Homo sapiens: one gene and its partners. The protein of the gene in region 2 interacts with the protein of the main gene of each other region in a pairwise test. Each region holds a gene or a part of one and is shown on either strand. Other genes may lie near its edges.

The links.
Region 1: the proteins of SIL1 (region 2) and SGTB interact in binary tests that used the Homo sapiens proteins (3 or more experiments, as listed by UniProt).
Region 3: the proteins of SIL1 (region 2) and SMAD9 interact in a two-hybrid assay, tested with the Homo sapiens proteins (one large-scale study listed by BioGRID and IntAct).

Annotation. Positions count from the first base shown.
Region 1 is NC_000005.10:65,673,524-65,677,175, reverse strand, and holds part of SGTB (small glutamine-rich tetratricopeptide repeat-containing protein beta), read left to right. Parts: intron 1-3,652. UniProt on the Homo sapiens protein: Co-chaperone that binds directly to HSC70 and HSP70 and regulates their ATPase activity.
Region 2 is NC_000005.10:139,188,257-139,191,908, forward strand, and holds part of SIL1 (nucleotide exchange factor SIL1 precursor), read right to left. Parts: intron 1-3,652.
Region 3 is NC_000013.11:36,878,628-36,882,279, forward strand, and holds part of SMAD9 (mothers against decapentaplegic homolog 9), read right to left. Parts: intron 2,151-3,652; exon of another isoform or gene 1,662-2,150; intron 1,249-1,661; 5' UTR 1,063-1,248; coding exon 651-1,062; intron 1-650. UniProt on the Homo sapiens protein: Transcriptional modulator activated by BMP (bone morphogenetic proteins) type 1 receptor kinase. SMAD9 is a receptor-regulated SMAD (R-SMAD).

The DNA of each region.
Region 1 (3,652 bases), about 74 Mb from region 2:
ATTCTTTGATGGTTGTTTGTATTTCTGTGGGGTCAGTGGTAATATCATTTTTGATTGTGTTTGTTTGAATCTTCTCTCTTTTTTCTTCATTAGTATAGCTAGCGGTCTATTTTATTAATTTTATCAAAAAACTAGCTCCTGTATTCATTTTTTTTTTTTTTGAAGGGTTTTCTGTGTCTCTATCTCCTTCAGTTCAGCTCTGATCTTGGTTATTTCTTGTCTTCTGCTAGCTTCGGGGTTTGTTTGCTCTTGTTTCTCTAGTTCTTTTATTTGTGATATTAGGTTGTCAACTGGAGATCTTTCTAGCTTTTTGATTTGGGCATTTAGTGCTATAAATTTCTTTCTTAACAAGAATGAAATTTTAGCTGTGTCTGAGATTCTGGTATGTTGTATCTTTGTTCTCATTCAAAGAAGTTCATTCTTCTCATTCAAGAAGTTCTGCCTTAATTTTATTATTTACCCAAAAGTCATTCAGGAGCAGGTTGTTCAATTTCCATGTAGTTGTGTGGTTTTGAGTGAATTGAGTGCCATGTGGTGATGAGAAGAACGTATATTCTGTTGTTTTTGGGTGGAGAGTTCTGTAGATATCAGGTCCACTTGATCCAGAGCTGAGGTCAGGTTTGAATATCTTTGTTAGTTTTCTGTCTTGATGATCTGTCTACTATTGTCAGCAGAGTGTTAAAGTCTCCCACTATTATTGTGTGGGAGTCTAGTCTCTTTGAAGCTCTCGAAGTACTTGCTTTATGAATCTGGGTGTTCCTGTATTGGGTGCATATATATTTAAGGTAGTTAGCTCTTCTTGTTGAATTGAACCCTTTACCATTATGTAATGCCCTTCTTTGTCTTTTTTTTTTCTCTTGAGACAGAGTCTTGCTCTGTCACCCAGGCTGGAGTACAGTGGCGCAATTTCAGCTCACTGCAACCTCTGCTTCCTTCTTTGTCTTTTTTGATCTTCTTTGGTTTAGAGTCTGTTTTGTCAGAAACTAGGATTGCGACCACTGCTTTTTTCTGTTTTCCATTTGCTTGGTAAATTTTCCTTCATCCCTGTATTTTGAGCCTATGTGTGTCTTTGTATGTATAGTGGGTCTCTTGAATACAGCTCACTGATGGGTCTTGTTTTTTTATCTGGTTTGCCATTCTGTGTCTTTTAATTGGGGCATTTAGCCCATTTACATTTAAGGTTAGTATTGTTATGTGTAAATTTGATCCTGTCATCATGATGCTAGCTGGTTATTTTGCAAACTTATGTGGTTGCTTCACAGTGTCACTGGTCTGTATACTTCAGTGTGTTTTTGTAGTGGCTGGTAACAATTTTTCCTTTCCATATTTAGTGCTTCCTTCAGGAACTCTTGTAAGGCAGGTCTGGTAGTAATGAATTCCCTCGGCATTTGCTTGTCTGAAAAGGATCTTATTTCTCCTTTGCTTATGAAGCTTAGTTTGACCAGATATGAAATTCTGGGTTGGAAATTCTTTTAAGGATGTTGAATATGGGCCCCCAATCTCTTCTGGCTTATAGGGTTTCTGCTGAGAGATCTGCTGTTAGTCTGATGGGCTTCCCTTTGTAGGTGGCCTGGCCTTTCTCTCTGGCTGAATGGCAGGGTTCTTAACGTGTCCATGTACCTCCTGTGGGAAAGCCATGGATGGACTTTAGGAAGCTCATGGATTTTTCCAAAATTATATATAAAAATCTGTGTACATGTGTATGTGTGCATTTTTCCAGGGAGAGCATCATATTTTTCATGAGATTGGCACAGGAATCTGCCAATATATGAAAGGTTAAAAACTACTCTCTTACATAAAAGTGGTCCTAGGAAGATATCTAACATCTGCAGTTTGAGTATTTGGCCATTGTGGTTCCCTAGCTTGCCCCTCAGCATTGTCTGCCTTGTTTTCTATCTTTAGAGTTTATTTGATATAGATAGATAGATATAGATATAGATATCTCATGTGTTTGTCTTCTATTCTTACAAAACAACAAAATAATGTATGGGCCTTTTTGAGAACATACACGCTCTGGTCCAATATGTGGTAACTTTGATTTAGTGGGTTTAGGATGTTACCAGGGCATATCAAGCTCCTGGGGTGACTGTATACTTTGGATGAGAATTATTCTATCCATGATATGCCCTTGGAAGGCAGGAATCAGTTTTTATTCATCTTTTGTTTCCTTCAAAAAATGTGTCTTGCATCCATTAAATCTTCTGTTGAACTGAAATGCACAGATGACTCATTCCCAGTGAGATAAGTCTTTTTAGCAACTGGTAGTTTTTATTTTTCCCTTATCAAATTTCAGCCTTCTTACCATGCTAGCAAATACATGTTTTGTAGATCTTGTGACTTCATTTTTTTTTTTAAGAATGGTTACCCATTCTAGGACTCAGGTTATGGCATTGTAACAAGATGTGAAAAATGGAATTCTTTTAGTTTCAGATTTGGCTTAGGCTCCAAGCTGCTATGTACCAAAATAAGGTGTGAGACCACCATGTAGGAGTTGCAAAAGATGGGGATAAAAAACATGTTTTGTGACTCATAAAAAAGGCCAGGTTGATGGAAATTAAAACATGATTTTTGGAGAGAGCTATTAGAGTTTTAGGGCTCCCTATATGAAGGAATTAGGGAGGCTTGCTCTCATCTCAAGCCCTCACTGAGAAAGGGCTTTTCTGGTACAGAGACTTTCTACCTGATAGTTCAACTGGATAGCCAGTGGCAGAATTAGCTGTGTGGTTTGGGCAGTTACTGTACTGATGAGAGTGGAGCAGAGGTGTTTCCTGTGGACCAAGGTGAGCACACACAATTGTGAGAGAGTGTGTCTGAATATGTTCAAGAGGCTTTCCTGGAAGTGTGACAGGATCCCAACACAGAGAATCTCTGGAGGACTGCCAAGAACCTAAGACTGAAGGGAAAGTCATAGCATCCATCCAGAGGGTAAATTACCCTTTTCAAAGAATAGGTAAGAAATCTCCAGGGCCTAGGGAAAGGAGAAGTGTCTGAAGAACATGAGAAAGTACCCCATAAGAGAACCACAGTAGTTTTTGAATACCTTGCAAACTCAAAAAGCACCAATGCAAAACTAGTAAGATAATACCAGTCATCAAATAAGAACTTTGCTGCTCCTTTCACCTTTCCCTCCATTTAACCCTCAACCTGGAGGGCCACAACTCTTAATCAGCAAGCTGAGGGAAGAGGACTGGAAGTACTACAGGATAAAGAAGCACTATAGGCCTTGGTGTGCTGGCTCACACCTGTAATCCCAGCACTTTGGGAGGCTAAGATGGGCGGAGCACTTGAGGTCAGGAGTTCCAGACCAGCCTGGCCAACCTGGCGAAACCCCGTCTCTACTAAAAATACAAAAATTAGCTGGGCATGGTGGTGCATGCCTGTAATCCCAGCTACTTGGGTGGCTGAGGCAGGAGAATCACTTGACTCCGGGAGGCAGAGGTTGCAGTGAGCTGAGGTCATGCCATTGCACTCCAGCCTGGGTGACAGAGTGAAACTTCATCTCAAAAAAAAAAAATAGCCCTATAGGACAGCGGTCCCCAACCTTTTTGTAACAGGGACTGGTTTCATGGAAGACAGTTTTTCCATGGACCATACCGGGTGTAGGGGGTAGGGGCAGGATGGGGAGAGGAGCGTTAGATTCTCTTGAGGAGCA
Region 2 (3,652 bases):
TTCTGTAATAATTCTGGAGCACAGTCACAGGAAACAGGGGAAGCAACAAAACTAGGTAAAAAAGATACTGCAGAGGCTCGCTAAAAAGAAAAAGACAATGGCATTTTCTTGAATGTACTAATTCCTATTGTTTACCAATTCAGATTGGCCTTCCCTCCAAATAGTGAGTTTTTTTTACCTTATTTGTTTCATACAGAGAAGTGAGGCATGGTCTATAGTCATAGTGCTTGGATTTTTTTAAAAACTCAACTTGAGATCAAAATAATGGGATTGGCTCCAGGGGCTTTTTCCTCACTCCCTTGCTACATGGAACCAGTTGTACATCTCAAAGAGAGAGACAGTCAACTTGAGCACAAAATCTGGGTCAGTGTATGTGACTGTGCCTCCGTGACTTTGCACAAGGACCAGAAATGAGCATACAAATCAGAGGAAAGCAGTGACAAAAGTCAACATTCCCTTGATGAGCTAATTGCTTCATGTCTGGCTGAAGAGCAGAAAGCAAGAGATAAGGAGAACATACTATCTGAGGGACCAGGCAGGCTCTGGACTAGCCAGCCCTACCCCAATAAAATCCCCTCATCAGACACTGCCCCCGAAACAAGGCCTGCTGGCTTGAGCACCTGACAAGAGAGAACCTGAGAAAGATAAGCACTAAGCTGAGTAAGGAAGGAGATGGCAGAGAAGCAGCAAAGTTCCTTGCTACTCACAACTTTTAGTTATTCAGCATGAAATACCTATAACTATTGGTATAAATAATATGTAATACAAACCAACTAAGACAACAATGAGGTGATGGTTAAGATAAAACTTGCTTGGTCAGCATAACCTATCCTGAAACTACGACGTGGCTCAGAAACTGGAAACTATTGTTGTCAATAATGATGACAACACAGAGCATTTACATCAGGGGTCCCAAACCCCCGATACTGGTCTGTAGCCTATCAGAAACCCATCCAAGGAGGTGAGCAGCAAGTGAGTGAGCAAAGCTTCATCTGTATTTACAGCTGCTCCCCAACGCTTGCATTAACGCCTGAGCACCGCCTCCTGTCAGATCAGTGGCAGCATTAGATTCTCATAGGAGCACAAACTCTATTGTGAACTGTGCATGCAAGGGATCTAGGTTGAACACTCCTTATGAGAATCTAATGCCTGATGATCTGTCACTGTCTCCCATCACCCCCAGATGGGACCGTCTAGTTGCAGGAAAACAAGCTCAGGGCTCCCACTAAGTCTACATTATGGTGAGTTGTATATTTCATTACATACTATAATGTAATAATAATAGAAATAGGTTGGGCATGATGCCCATAATCCCAGCATTTTGGGAGGTCCAGGCGGGTGGATCACCTGAGGTCAGGAGTTCAAGACCAGCCTGGTCAACATGGTGAAACCTCATCTCTACTAAAAATACAAAAATTAGCGGGTGTGGTGGTACACATCTGTAATCTCAGCTACTCAGGAAGCTGAGGCAGGAGAATTGCTTGAACCTGGGAAGCAGAGGTTGCAGTGAGCCAAGACTGTGCCACTGAACTCCAGCCTGGGTGATGGAGTGAGACTCTGTCTCAAAAATAATAATAACAGAAATAAAGTACACAATAAATATAATGTGCTTGAATCATCCCCAAACCATCCCCCACATCCCCCAGTCCATGGAAAAATAGTCTTCCATGAAACTAGTCCCTAGTGCCAAAAAGGTTGGGGACTGCTGTTTTACATTGTGCCAGAGGAAGCACCATATCTATTCTCTGAATTCTTAAGATAGCTATAAAAATACATATTACTATTCCCATTCAACAGATCATAAAACTAAGGCTTAGAGAAAATAAGTAACTTACAATCTGACAACTAGTAAGTAGATATCAGAACGTAAATACAAGTGAGTCTGACTCCAAAGTGTGTTTAAACCACTCTGAAATACACTCATTCCTTCTCTCTTTCTCTTAGAGATGTCTTGAAGGTTTGCTTGGATCACCAGATAAGGTCCACTGTTACATCTGGCCTCATTCTTTACAGAAACACACAAGTCTGGCCTGAGCACTATTTGTTTCTAACACGGAGGAAGGCTTCAAATTCATTTCCTCTGAGGTAAGAGCAAGAGAAACACATTTCGACATGAGTAGGAGGAAAAACAGCACGACAGCAAAAATCTTCAACCATGAGGGTATAAGATCATGTACAAGGCAGTAAGTGGAGACAGGGCCTCCTCCTTCCCAGGAGACTTTTAACTGCAAAAGCATCCTGCATCTTTACAATGCTTTAAACAATTCTAACAACTTCTATGGCCACCCTTTGTAAGACCCCTAGCCTGTGTCCCAGCTCTAACACTAGAGTCCCACTATTATGTGGGTGGCCTAAAAAAGATCCTACCATTACGTGGCCCACTTCACTTCTCTGGGGCTCAGTTTTTGTCGTCAGAAAAATAAAAACCTATCAAATGCAAAATGGAGGCATTGGGCAGTAACAGAACTAGAAGTGTATCTCCTGACTCTTCACTCATCCACAGTACCACAAACAGCCAGCCCTGATGTTTGCAAGGAAATAAAGATCTCTATAATATCTTCCAGCCCAAAACACAATCATTTTAGACTTTAGCAGCTGGGTCCAAGGATGGAGACTTAACTTCAAGAATACAGTCAAACCCAACTCCCCATGAGTATGAGATGGGGTGTGGGGAAAAACAAGAAGCAACCTTAGGCCAGAGACAGTGGCTCACACCTGTAATCCCAGCACTTTGGGAGACCGGGGTGAGCAGATTACCTGATGTCAGGAGTTCAAGACCAGCCTGGCCAACATGGTAAAACCCCATCTCTACTGCAAATACAAAAATTAGCCGGCCATGGTGGCAAGCACCTGTAATCCCAGCTGCTTAGGAGGCTGAGGCACAAGAATCACTTGAACCTGGGAGGCAGAGGTTGCAGTGAGCCAAGATCACACTCACACCTGGGTGACAGTGAGACTCTGTCTCAAAAAAAAAAAAAAAAAAAAAAAAGCATCCTTAAATACTTACTTACAACTTACTTATGAGCTGGCCCCTTAAGCTTCCAATACACACTATCCACAGCACTCAAAGCATGGCCAATCAATGTTGTCTGTATCGATTGTCCTACTTTATGTTATTCCACTGGGCTGAAGCCTGCTAGTTTTCTAGTTTGGTCAGATGGCTGCTTTCCCCTTGGGAGCCTCACAAAAATGAGACTATCCCCAGAGGTAAAGAAATGTCCATTTAAAAGCCCACTGGTATAGCTGGGCATGGTGGCTCACACTTGTAATCCCAGTGCTCTAGAAGGCCAAGGTAGGGCATCACTTGAGGCCAGGAATTTAAGATCAGCCTGGGCAATGTTGCAAGCAAGACCCTGTCTCTTTAAAAAAAAAAAAAAAAATTAAATTAGCCAGGCATGGTGGTGCACACCCATGGTCCTAGCTACTTGGGAGGCTGAGGTGGGAGGATCACTTGAGCCCAGGAGTTGGAGGTTGCAATGAGCTATGATCACACCACTATACTCCAGCGTGGGCAACAGAGTGAGACCCTCTTAAAAAGGGCCAGGCACAGTGGCTCACGCCTGTAATCCCAGCACTTTGGAAGGCCGAGGCCGGCAGATCTCGAGGCCAGGAGTTTGAGACCAGCCTGGCCAATATGGTGAAATCCCATCTC
Region 3 (3,652 bases), on a different chromosome or scaffold from region 2:
GTTTTCAGACCTAGACATGAGATATCTTCTACTTACCTGAACTTGAACAAAGTAGCAGCCAAAAACCCTGCCTTAGTTCAGTTTAGTACAGTTCAGTTCAGTTGTTTGGGGCGGGGGGAGGAGGATGTTTAATTTTTACAGCTCATCATTATCAAGGCCATTTTAAAACCTTTCAGGACCCCAAGAACTGGTAAAAGATTATGTTGACTTGTCCCAGATACCTCAAAATAAAACTTTTATGGCAGTTTTCTCCGATTAGCCATCTGCCTCATTTTCAAAATCACACAAAGCTTACCAGCATAATGAAATCAAATGAAAATATCTTCTTTCTAGATTTTCCTGACTAGTTTATCTTCATTCCTTCACACTGGCTATAACAGGGTTTTACTGCGATTCTCTTTGGATTGAGTGTTCCTGTGGCATTCCAGGCAGGAATATCGTTTTCATGGGAACTTTCTTTGATTGGACAGCTGCCTCATTCCGGGAAACAAAATTTTGGACGAGTCCCTCAAAACTGAACCTCCCTCTCCTCTCTTCTCTCTCTCTCTTTTGGGAGAGGTCCCTGTCTGCTGGTGCCCCATCATTCTCCATCAATGGGGCACACGACCTTCACTCTGAAAATAAACCTTGACGTCGTAAAGACGACCCACCTGGAGTCTCCACCCGGCGGTAGTGGTAAGGGTTAATGCACACTTCTTTCTGCTTGGAGCCAAATGGGAACTCACAGCACTCCAGCGGCTTCAGCTCGTGGTGGGACTGCAGATCCGGCCAGCGCCACACGCGACAGTAAATCACATGGGGCAGGCCCTTGCGGTGGGACACCTGCAGCCGCCCGTCCAGGGAGCGGGGAATCGTGACGCATTTGCTGGGCTGCCCCGGGCAGCTGAGAGCCCTCTCCAGCTCGTCCATGGCTCCCTTCTTCTTCTTTAACTTCTTCACTAGAGAGTCCACTGCCTTCTCTGCCCACTTTTCCTCTTCATCTCCTTGCTTCCAGCCTAGCAGTCTCTTCACTGCGGGGCTGGTGAAGGAGAAGAGGGAGCTGATGGGGGTGGTGGAGTGCATAAGAGGCCACAGCAGGCTCCGGCGCGCACGGGAACCGCACAGCCCTTCACGGCAAAGTGGGCGGCGAGTAGCTCTCCAGGGGTGGCATAGGGACCAACCCGCCCGTTCTTCTGGGAGCAGCTGGGACCAATTCAAGTTGCGAAGTGTGTTGACTTTCTCCTAAGCCCTTGAACAGGGTGGCCAACTCTGGAAAACACGACAAGACTTCAATTAGCTTAATCGGAGTAACATTCAGAAAAAGTTGAAGTTGGATAGAAAGAGGCAATCTACACCTACAGTCCCAGCTACTCAAGTGGGTGAATGGCTCGAGCCCAGGAGGTCAAGGCTGCGCCACTGCACTCCAGCCTGAGCAACAGAACCAGGCCCCAAAGTTGGATAGAAGGGAAAAAACATTCTTCAAATGTTTTAATTTTAAAACTGTTGTCTTTGACTCTGCCCTCTCCTGTATTTCCTATATCCAGGTCTCAGGTCATTCTGCCCTCAAAGTCTTTGGAGTTTGTCCTTTCTCTCCATTTCTGCCAACACCTGAGGTCTGACTCACCACACCACTTCTCTGAAGTAGCATCTCTCTTTCTCTCTTTCAATTCGAATTCACTTACTCCCAAACACAGCTCTTATCATTTTCCCATTTAAGAAATGACAGTGGCTCCTTGGTCTCCCAAGTGTAAACTCCTCTGCCTGGGTTTTTCCAGGGCCTCCATAATCTGCCCTCAACATGAGTATGTTCTTTCTTTCTCATTTTTAGTTTGCACAAGCAATCCATCTTCTTGTAGAAAATAAATACTAATGAAAAGAAAAGAAAAAAAGAATCGTGAATAATCTCACCACTCCTGGACAGCCATTCTTAACATAGTCTTCCAAACTACTTTTCAGGACAGTGGCTCTCAAAGTGTGCCCCAAGGATCCCTGGGAGTCCCCTGAGATCCTTTTAAGGGGACTATGAGGTTCTCTCTTTTCCAATTACTTATTTGTGTGAACTAACTTCGCTTCACATACTTCAACCAAAACAACATAACACAATAGAGTATATGGAGAAAAGATGACAATCTAGGTGCCATTTATTAAGCCAAGTATTAAATAGATTTGCAGTAATATAAAACAATAATACTCTTCTCAATAACTTTTTTGAAAACAATGTTTTAAATAAAAATATTTTATGTTAATACAGTTTTTTTAATGATTCAATCAATATTTTTTTAATTTCTTAGTTTCAATTTTTAAAATGGTAAAAATTGATAGATACAGCCTACAGAAGCAAGAGTTCTTTGGAGTTCTCAATAATTTTTAAAAGTGGAAATTTTCAAGACCCAAATGCATGAGAACTGCTTTTCTAGAAATTATACACTATCACACACCAATACATACACAAAAAAGCACAGCTGTCACATTTGTTATTTGGCCTAAAATCAGCTTAATTCTTCTTTGCCCTGTCATCCACAGGAGATGTTCTTTCCCAGTTATTCAGCAGTCTCATTTAAATTTCCTGAGGTCGAACTGTATTTCCTCTTCTGTGAAATAGTTGGCTTAAACAAAACCTCCTCCTCCTTCCAGATTTTAGAAACCAGCTACCTCATTAATGTTTAAAGTGGCTGGCTGGTAACATTTTGGAGTAAGCTGACTCAAGTATTTTGGGATCTTGGAATCGATGTAGCTTATAATCTCCAACAATTGTTTGTTTAATATGCATTAAATATAATTTTCTCCTTTGCTTCCCTGGAGGGCAAGCTGTACCTTTCTGAGTCCAATTCTATAAACTTCTTTCGAACAAAGGTGCCTTATAACCCCCCGCTAGGGTGATCATTATCGGGCACCTCAGGTGAGGAGGATGGCAGCATGGTCCCACAATAACGGATGAGATTTAATAAGTATAAAGCAATAGTCACATCACTTTATTCCTCATCTGGGCTTTATCTGGCATTGTACAGAGATAAACTATGACAAAAGGGAGAGTTGAGAGCTCCATAGCTGCTCTTTTCGCTTGGCAGTTTGACTTACACTCAGTTTTATTTGGAAAGGTTGATTTTGTGGCTTAACAATCATGAATTTATAAAGTATAGTTAAGTCATTGTGTTCAAGTTCTGTTTACTTAATCTAGTCAGGCTGCCTTAAAGCAATGGCTGAAGAGGGTTAGAAGCTTTAAGGAGAAGTCTCATGATAGAATAACCTGAACCCCAAAAGAGTTGTGAATTCTGCTTAGTTTTACATGGAACTCATTATTAGTAAGTTGTGGTATAGATCTTTAAGCTGAGGTCAGTCATAGAGAAAAGCTTTTTATAAAAACACTCAGCGAGTTAAACCAAATACACCTTTTAGAAACTTTTGCTCCATGAAACAACAGTTCCCTAAACCAGGTTTTGTTTGGTTCGTTTTTTTAAACTGTGGGTTTCTATTTACCAATGGCATGTGAAATCAATGAATTGGAACAAAACAGCTTTTGCACAAACAACAAAACAAAACAGACTTTATTGCAGAGCAGCTGACGAAAAATAAGTATAATAATAATCATTTCATGAAAAATTTTCATTCACAGGTATGTGCTGTGTGTGTGTGTGTGTGTGTGTGTGTGTGTGTATGTGTGTGCGGTGTATGT